Homo sapiens: one gene and its partner. The protein of the gene in region 2 purifies or fractionates together with the protein of the main gene of each other region. This does not show direct contact. Each region holds a gene or a part of one and is shown on either strand. Other genes may lie near its edges. The genes, in order: EVL and SEMA6A.

Evidence for each region.
Region 1: the proteins of SEMA6A (region 2) and EVL purify together in Homo sapiens (affinity purification with western blotting, with the first as the bait; one study listed by BioGRID). This does not show direct contact.

The regions. Positions count from the first base shown.
Region 1 is NC_000014.9:100,131,304-100,135,122, forward strand, and holds part of EVL (ena/VASP-like protein), read left to right. Parts: exon of another isoform or gene 1-1,415; coding exon 1,416-1,476; intron 1,477-1,743; coding exon of another isoform or gene 1,744-1,856; intron 1,857-2,897; coding exon of another isoform or gene 2,898-2,985; exon of another isoform or gene 2,986-3,819. UniProt on the Homo sapiens protein: Ena/VASP proteins are actin-associated proteins involved in a range of processes dependent on cytoskeleton remodeling and cell polarity such as axon guidance and lamellipodial and filopodial dynamics in migrating cells.
Region 2 is NC_000005.10:116,564,795-116,568,613, reverse strand, and holds part of SEMA6A (semaphorin-6A isoform 2 precursor), read left to right. Parts: intron 1-3,819. UniProt on the Homo sapiens protein: Cell surface receptor for PLXNA2 that plays an important role in cell-cell signaling. Required for normal granule cell migration in the developing cerebellum.

The DNA of each region.
Region 1 (3,819 bases), on a different chromosome or scaffold from region 2:
ATGCCAGATGCCGGTGGGAGAGTCAAGGCCCTCCCAAGAACAAACATGCTTTGCATAGCTCAGCAGGGATCAATCAGGTGCTCTCTGAAATCCACCTCAGTGATGGCTACTGGGTGGAGCCGACGATGAAAGTGCCCTTGCCAGGTTTCTTTTCATGTAGGTTGTCTCCCGCCTCTGAGGGCATGCAGTTGAGTCTCCCAACAGTGGAGGGCAGGAGGGAAATGAACGTGGACAGAAAGCTCCTGTTCAGCAGCACTTTCACAGACACTCATCCCGCCTACACTCCCCGTGAGCAGGTGGCTTGGTCAGCGTTCTGTTTCTAGGAGATGGGACACTGGCTGCTGGGGGGTAGCTGGTGAGGTGTAAGTGATCGTGGCTAGGCCAGTTAGGAGACTCTGACAGTCCAGGAAGAGATGATAGGGGCATGCAGGAAGGTGTTGAAGGTGAAGACAAAAAAGACAGGCAGGTACCCAGATTTAGAGAACTGACCAGGCTGACAGTTATAAGAAGCTGGTGTCAGGGATGATTCCCTGGTTTCTGGGCTGAGGGACGAGGTGGGCAGACCTGTCCTGAGATGGGAGCTAAAGAAGGGGGCCCCTGCTGTAGCTGAGGAGGCTGCCAGGTAGGCCCATCACAGACAGGTGACAGCCTGGCCACGGCCCATTATCACACCTCAGACCAGCTCCATGCTTGATGGGCAGCTCATCTCAAGTTGAAAAGCCACAGAAGCGTATCTCTGGGAAACACTGAGGGTCTGCCTGCCTCTGTAGACCTGGGAGGTCAGCAGATACCACTGAGGCCAAAAAATATGGGTGAGGTTTTAGAGTACATGAAACGGGGATTCATACTGGGGAGGTGCACGAACCGACTCAAGGGCGTCACGTGGACCTATTCCAGGGCTCCTCTTCTGAGCATTTCCAGGCTCTGAGTGGCATTCTAGATTGGGGAGGGCGTGGCTGGGTTAACTGAGTTCCAAGACACAAGGGCCTTAGAGTGACACAAGAAAGTGTCCAGTGTCCCGACCTGTGGGACAGACTGCAGCCCAGAGAGATGCCTCTCTGTCCCGTGTGGCCAGGCCTTCAGTGTCCTGGGGACAGAGCGTGCCCGCCTCCCCTCCACGCCTCAGATGCTACAGCTGCTGCCAGTAGAGCTAAACAGACATAGAGGCATCTCGCCCTCTCTGCCTAGACCAGTTTTGTGTCCCAGGCCATGACCACACGGAGGGCCTGGACATTTGCCTGGGCCTGGCTCCTCACCAGACGGGGCCTAGACAAGCCGCCTCCTTCACGCCATCGTTTTCCCACACAGGTTTATCTGAGGACCGGGGTGAGTCTGGCAGGGTGGAGGCAGAAGAGTTCTGGGACAGTGAGAGAACGTGAGGAGCTGATCTGTATCTTCCCCTTCTCTGTGCCTAGGAGAAAAGCAGCCTCCCAGTCAGACAAGCCAGCCGAGAAGAAGGAAGATGAAAGCCAAATGGTGAGCAAGCAGCCCGCCCCACCCTCAGGCTCCCCACTGAGATGAGCGCATCGCCAGGGAGGCTCTCTGGTCTCAGGCGAGGCCTTTGGGACATGCGTGGGATGGGCGCTTCATCAGGTGATTCACAGGAGGGGCGGAGGGTCTCTGCGGTGCTTGTCCCTGCGCCACCCTGGCCCCAGCAGCAGGCCTGCCCTCACTGAGCACCCCCTACCAGACACTGCTCCACCCTTGGAGCTGCAGCCTGAGGCGCTGGCCGCTGCACCGCAGGGCTACCTCGCCTTCCCAGGAGCCCCGGGGAGCACAGACCAGCCAGGGTCTCGGCGGGACTGGGACTCCAGGAGTACACTGCAGAGGGGCACGTCTGCCAGAAGCCCAGAGAGGTTTTTATTTTCAAATTATTTCTGTTTCTAAAGACTCCTCTTCCAGCAGGAGCTTCAGGTGAGCTGTGGCAAAGGAGCCCTGGACCCCTGGCTCTTGTCCTTACCAGGCAGCCCAGAGCCAGCCTGGCTGCCAGAGCTCCCAACATCTGCTTCCAGTTAGGGCGGCTAATTCTCTTTTCCTCCATGTTAAGCTTTTCCTATAAAAAGACTCCTACTGACAGGGCTAAGTTTAGCCTTAACTACAAATGCCTTGAAGGTTCCACCTCAGTGCAGAATCAGAGAGGAAATAAAACTGCCAGGGACCAGAGCAGGCTTCCTGCCCTGTCCTCCCATCAGTCAGGGTCATGCTGGTGTTACCCTGAGGCTATAGCCCTCCCAGCTGATCCACGCCTCTCAGCCCCGTCCTGGGCACATATGGGTCCCTTTGCCCCACCAGCCAACTCCCATTCAGCCTGCACTTCCCTGCATCACCCTTACACCTTAAAAAACAGCCTCCCGGCCGGCTCAACACTTCACACTTGTAGTCCCAGCACTTTGGGAGGCCGAGGCAGACGGATCACCTGAGGTCAGGAGTTTGAGACCAGCCTGGCCAACATAGTGAAACGTCATCTCTACTAAAAATACAAAATTAGCGGGGCATGGTGGCGCATGCCTGTAATCCCAGCTACTCGGGAGGCTGAGGCAGGAGAATTGCTTGAACCTGGGAGGCGGAGGTTGTAGTGAGCAGAGATCGCACCATTGCACTCCAGCCTGGGCAACAAGAACGAGACTCCGTCTCAAAAACAAAACAAACAACAACAACAAAAAAACAGCCTCCCGACCCCCAGGCCTCACAAAGCTCCTCACTACTTGATCCCAGCCCCGGTCTTCTCCCGAGGCCCTCTGCACAGGCACGACTGCTTGTGGAGACTCGTTGTCTCCTGCCAGATCTTAGGCCCTTGGAGGGCGAGGCCTGGGCTTCTCACACGTCCACCATTCCCATACCTTGCACATGCTGTGGAGTTTAGCCAACTGACTTGCCATGAATTTCTGAAATTGCAGGCCACGGGATAATCACAGACATCAAAATACTGTGGCCTCGCTCCAGCCACAGCCCTGGGGATCTGAAGACATCGCTGGCCTTTCTTAGTCAGGTGCCAGTATGTTGCAGTCCCAGCCCCTGAAAACTAAAACTCTCGCTCCTGGAGCTCTAAGAAGAATGGATTTCAAAGCCCAGGGGCTTCTGGAAGAGGAACATTCTTGAAACCTTCAACCCCAAGGATAGCACTCTCCTCCTCAGACCCCCATCTTTTCTGTCTTGTTTTTCACAGGCCCCTGGCTACAGCTGGTTCTTGTTTGCCATGGTCCCTTCTCATACCCAGGACTAGCGTCTAAAGAGAGCAGGGCCTTCAGAAGATCCACACACCACACAAGTGCAGTGGGAGGGAGAGAGGCTGATGGCCGGCACTCGTTTTCTTGTTCATGCTTCCTGGTATTTCCCCAATTCTCTGCAGTGAACATGCACTAAGTTTATCATTAACAGAGAAGAAAGAAGGCTTATTTGAAAGACGAAAAGAGCCCCAAATGTGGAGTCCGGTGACTTGGGCAGGCCCTCTGCCATGGCAGAGCTGGCCCTGGGCCAATGGAGTTACTGCTCCGAGGACCAGTTCCACCACCTGAAAACCTGCACCCAGGCATGGCCGCCTCACAGACTGTGCGACTGCCAGAGGTGGGGTGCAAGTCTCTGTGCCCAGGGCCTGGGAGTGCTGCGGCCACCTCTTTCCCAGCCTAGAGTCAAAGCATAACTTCCCTTTTAAGCAGGGAGGGTTTTAAAAAAATAACATACAAGAAAAGATGATAATTTTTTAGTGACTCTGATGTCACCCTGTATCGCTTTCATCGTGGCCCCCACATGTGTGTGTTGATTGACATAATCTGTTATTCAGCTGTCTTTAAAATGAGGAGGCCTGAGAACCTCATCCCA
Region 2 (3,819 bases):
CAGAGCTAAGAAGACAGCCAGCATTTGTGGGGATTGAGCTTTTGACCCTGGCCTCATTTGTTCTGCATTCTAACCACTGGCCATAGAACGTTCATGTTTTTTTGGAGTTTGCTAATAGTAGTTTTAAAATTCAACTTTCTATCAGGAGAATACAGCATACTTTATTAACCCATGTTTCTGCCCTGTACCCGTACAGTATATCTGCTGTTGAGGATCCTGCACTTGGAGACAAGAAGACCTGAGTTCCAGACTCTCACTACCTTGGACAAGTCACTTAACTTCTCTGTGGCTGCATTATTTTAATTGAAAATTATAAATAGTAAACCTATTCTTCCTAACTTATAGGATTACTGGGAAAATAATACGAAATCATGAATGTGAATGTATTTAGTGAAATATTACACGCATTGTGGAAATTTGGGAAGTTTGATGTTAACCCCCTCTTTCCCACTCTGGACCCTGGATATAACAGAGATCCTACTTCATCTTCTAAATTATTTTTGGTAGAATATACACTGTTCATGTAGTTTTAATGTAAATCACATTATGCAACTAAATAATATGTTCAAATTCATTGAAATTGTACAGTTCACCTAGAGCATGGATAGCAACTTTATTAATTAGAACACCTACCATGTCAAGGAAACATTGCTTTCAACATTATCATTAAATCAGGCAAGGTCATAGGAGTACCATTCTGCCAGGAATTAGTTTAAAAGTAAGATAATTGTTTTTGCTCAGTTAAATTCTGAAATAGTTCAAATCAGTGTAACGATTAATATGTCAGGGTGAACCAGGACTAGTAGAAGTTTCCATCTTTGTCATAACAAGGCCGAATTCGTTAGATCTTGTGGCGTGAGGTTAATAAATGTGAAGGGACCGTTGGAGGGAAGGTAGTGGACAACTCTAGAGGCATTGCGGAGGTCATGCTTTTTTGACAGACAATGCACGTGGATTTGTTTTGCCATTTACCAACAGTGTGACTTTATGCCAGTTTCCTTTCTCCTTCAGTTTTCATTTGCAAAGTGCTAGTATGATGATAATGTTATGGTTTTGAGAAGAATAAATGTGCTAACATCTGTAAAATGCATGTCACAATGCCGGGCACACAACAAGCAGTCATTCAACATAAGGTATTATTTTTACTTGAGTAACAGTAGTTACGAAAAATGTCCTAGGAATGGATTTTGAAAAAGCAGATAGTACTTTTATTCTGGGGGGCAGGGGAAATAGTAGAAAAGGAAATGGCTACGAATCTGTAATATAAAGAGATGATGCAAAAGAAAACAACCTTTGGACTAGAAACAAACATTCATACCATAAACAGGCCATAATGTCATGGGTTTTAAGTTGAGAAGCATGTGAATACATCACTTGCAGGGAAACAGGAAACAGGGAAACTTTGGAATTTGAAATATCACACCCAAAACATGGAAGGAAAAAACCACTATATATAAAAAATAATAATAATAACAAGCAGAGCCTTATATCAAATAGGAGCCCAAGGGATAGTTTTTGAAAAATGATAGCTATCACTTATTAACATTTTAATAATAAAATGTACACTCTGCACCTACATTTAGAATCTGAAAGCAACTCATAATGACAATTTTAGGGATGAGTTGAATTCCCAAGGACCACACCTGTCTTAGGAGAGAAACTCGGCTGCTGATTGGAACCCTTGAGGAGGTTGTGGCTAGGACTTCTGCAAGAGGGTCTTCAGGTTGGGCATGCATCTGCCAGGTCACTCTTCCCTGGCCAAGCTTGAAATCAATTTGGGAGCAAAAGCAAACTACTGCCTTCCACACCAAAGGTAGGAAATAATTGGCTGACCCCAGTAGAGATAGCAGTTATTCTGCTGACAGACACACTACTACAAAACCTGAAATTTGATTCAAATGATAGTCATACAAGTTCTTATCAGTGAGAAAAATCTGACTTCTAAAAGGCACAGCAGAAGGGGAAATAAATTGATGTTATCACCACAATTCCCTGCTACCATTATGTTTTCCAGGAATGCCTCCATGGCTTAGAGTTACAGTTATTTTCAACTAGGAAATAAAATGTTCTCAAACTCTGTAAGTGGAAACAGAATGGAAAGAGTGTGAGATAAATCAGTAATTAACATGCTGCAAGGACCGAAGTTTCAGATCCTTCTTAGCAGCCAGTATGGTGACTTTTGCTTAGAAAGCATTGTTAGTAATAGATACTTCCTCATGCAGCCTTTAGACTTGAAGCTTTCTTTTAATATTCCTAGGTGCTTTCTAGGAATTTCCAACTAACCTATAATTGTCATCTGTAGAACATTAAATTCAAAGAATCCATGCCAATTAAAAAAATTTAGCAGAAGAAGCTCTAAAGTTGGTGCTGTTTACGCCTTTCTTAGCCCTTCTGCCCCTCTACGCTTCAAAGACCAGCCTTTGGCCATGATTTGATTAGAAGCATTTATAGAACAGAACAGGATCTGGCATTAAATACAATGAAAACATGCCATTGGAAAATAAACATTGTTAGAGACTACGAAGAAATAAAGATTGTATTAATTATGTTTTAATGTTCTATGAGGGTTTTACAGACAAGCTGTGATAGATCCATTCTTCTTTCCCTGTTCCTATTCCTGATTCGTTTTTTAAAGAAAAGTATTCAGTCTTTTCATTAATATTGCAGCGACTTCAGCACTTCCCCGCCCCTCCCCCAGACTCCTACTGTCCTTGAATGAGGAAACTGAGAGAATACTGATTGAGCTGGTGAATGGAAACGTTCCTTTCCTGAAAATGGAATGCTTTACAAAAAATTGCATTCCACAAAAAAACACTCAAAACAATTCAACAACTGTCCCTCCTCCTTTCTACCCAGAGAGCCACTTGATTTCATTCACATATTTTGGTTTTTCAATGTATTTGTTCTTAGGCCTAAAATACCCAGGTGGAAAACCATTCTATTAAGCCTTTCACTATTTTAAAAACATGAGCATCTGAGTTTCTAAGAACATTCTCATTCCTGCATAGTGAGCGATAAATAGAAACCAAATTGTTTGTAGCATTCTAAACTCAAGTATATTGGCAGAATGGCAGTGGAGTTGATTTTTATAAGAATACTTGTTAATGGTTTTCGAGACGGATTCTGTGCTAATTCTTCTTGTATCATGAATGATGGCCCTAGCTAGACACTGTCGCTGGGATCTTCATCTGTTAATCATGGAGGCTGCTTTCTTATTCGGTTGCCATAGTTTCAGTGCCTCACATAGTGTTGGGGTGTCTTGGGAAAGGTTTGAGATATACTAGGGCTTGCAAGCCTTGCAGTTATTTTGACAGTTGTGCTCTGAAAGACTGAAAACCGCTTCTCGTATAATTCAGTGTTGGATTAAAAGAGGCAACTTCTGAGAGTGTCTCCCTGGACCTTGTTATGTGCACATCCAGCTGGTATTTAATCCAGGATTTGCCTCTTGCTCAGTCTTGCTGGCAAAAAAAATAAATAAATAAAAATACAGTACAGAGGCTGATGTCACTTTCATATTTCAACAAGAAAGCAAAGGGACGCAAACTCTTCATTAAGACTATTCACAAATGTGGAGGTAAATGAGGCCATTCATGACTTTGCTTAAAATTTCTGCTCCATAATTTGGCTTTGGCTTTGCAGATTACTAAATAAATAAAATGACATCATGATTGCTGTGTGCCGTGTGTTATTTTGGCAATGGAAACATGTAGAGCTTTACTTCAGGTTTAACCTTTCCTTTTTTACACTTGACACTCATTGCTAAGGAGCTAGAGACCATTTTACTGTATTTTGCAACAAAAGGCTCATACATTTTGGACT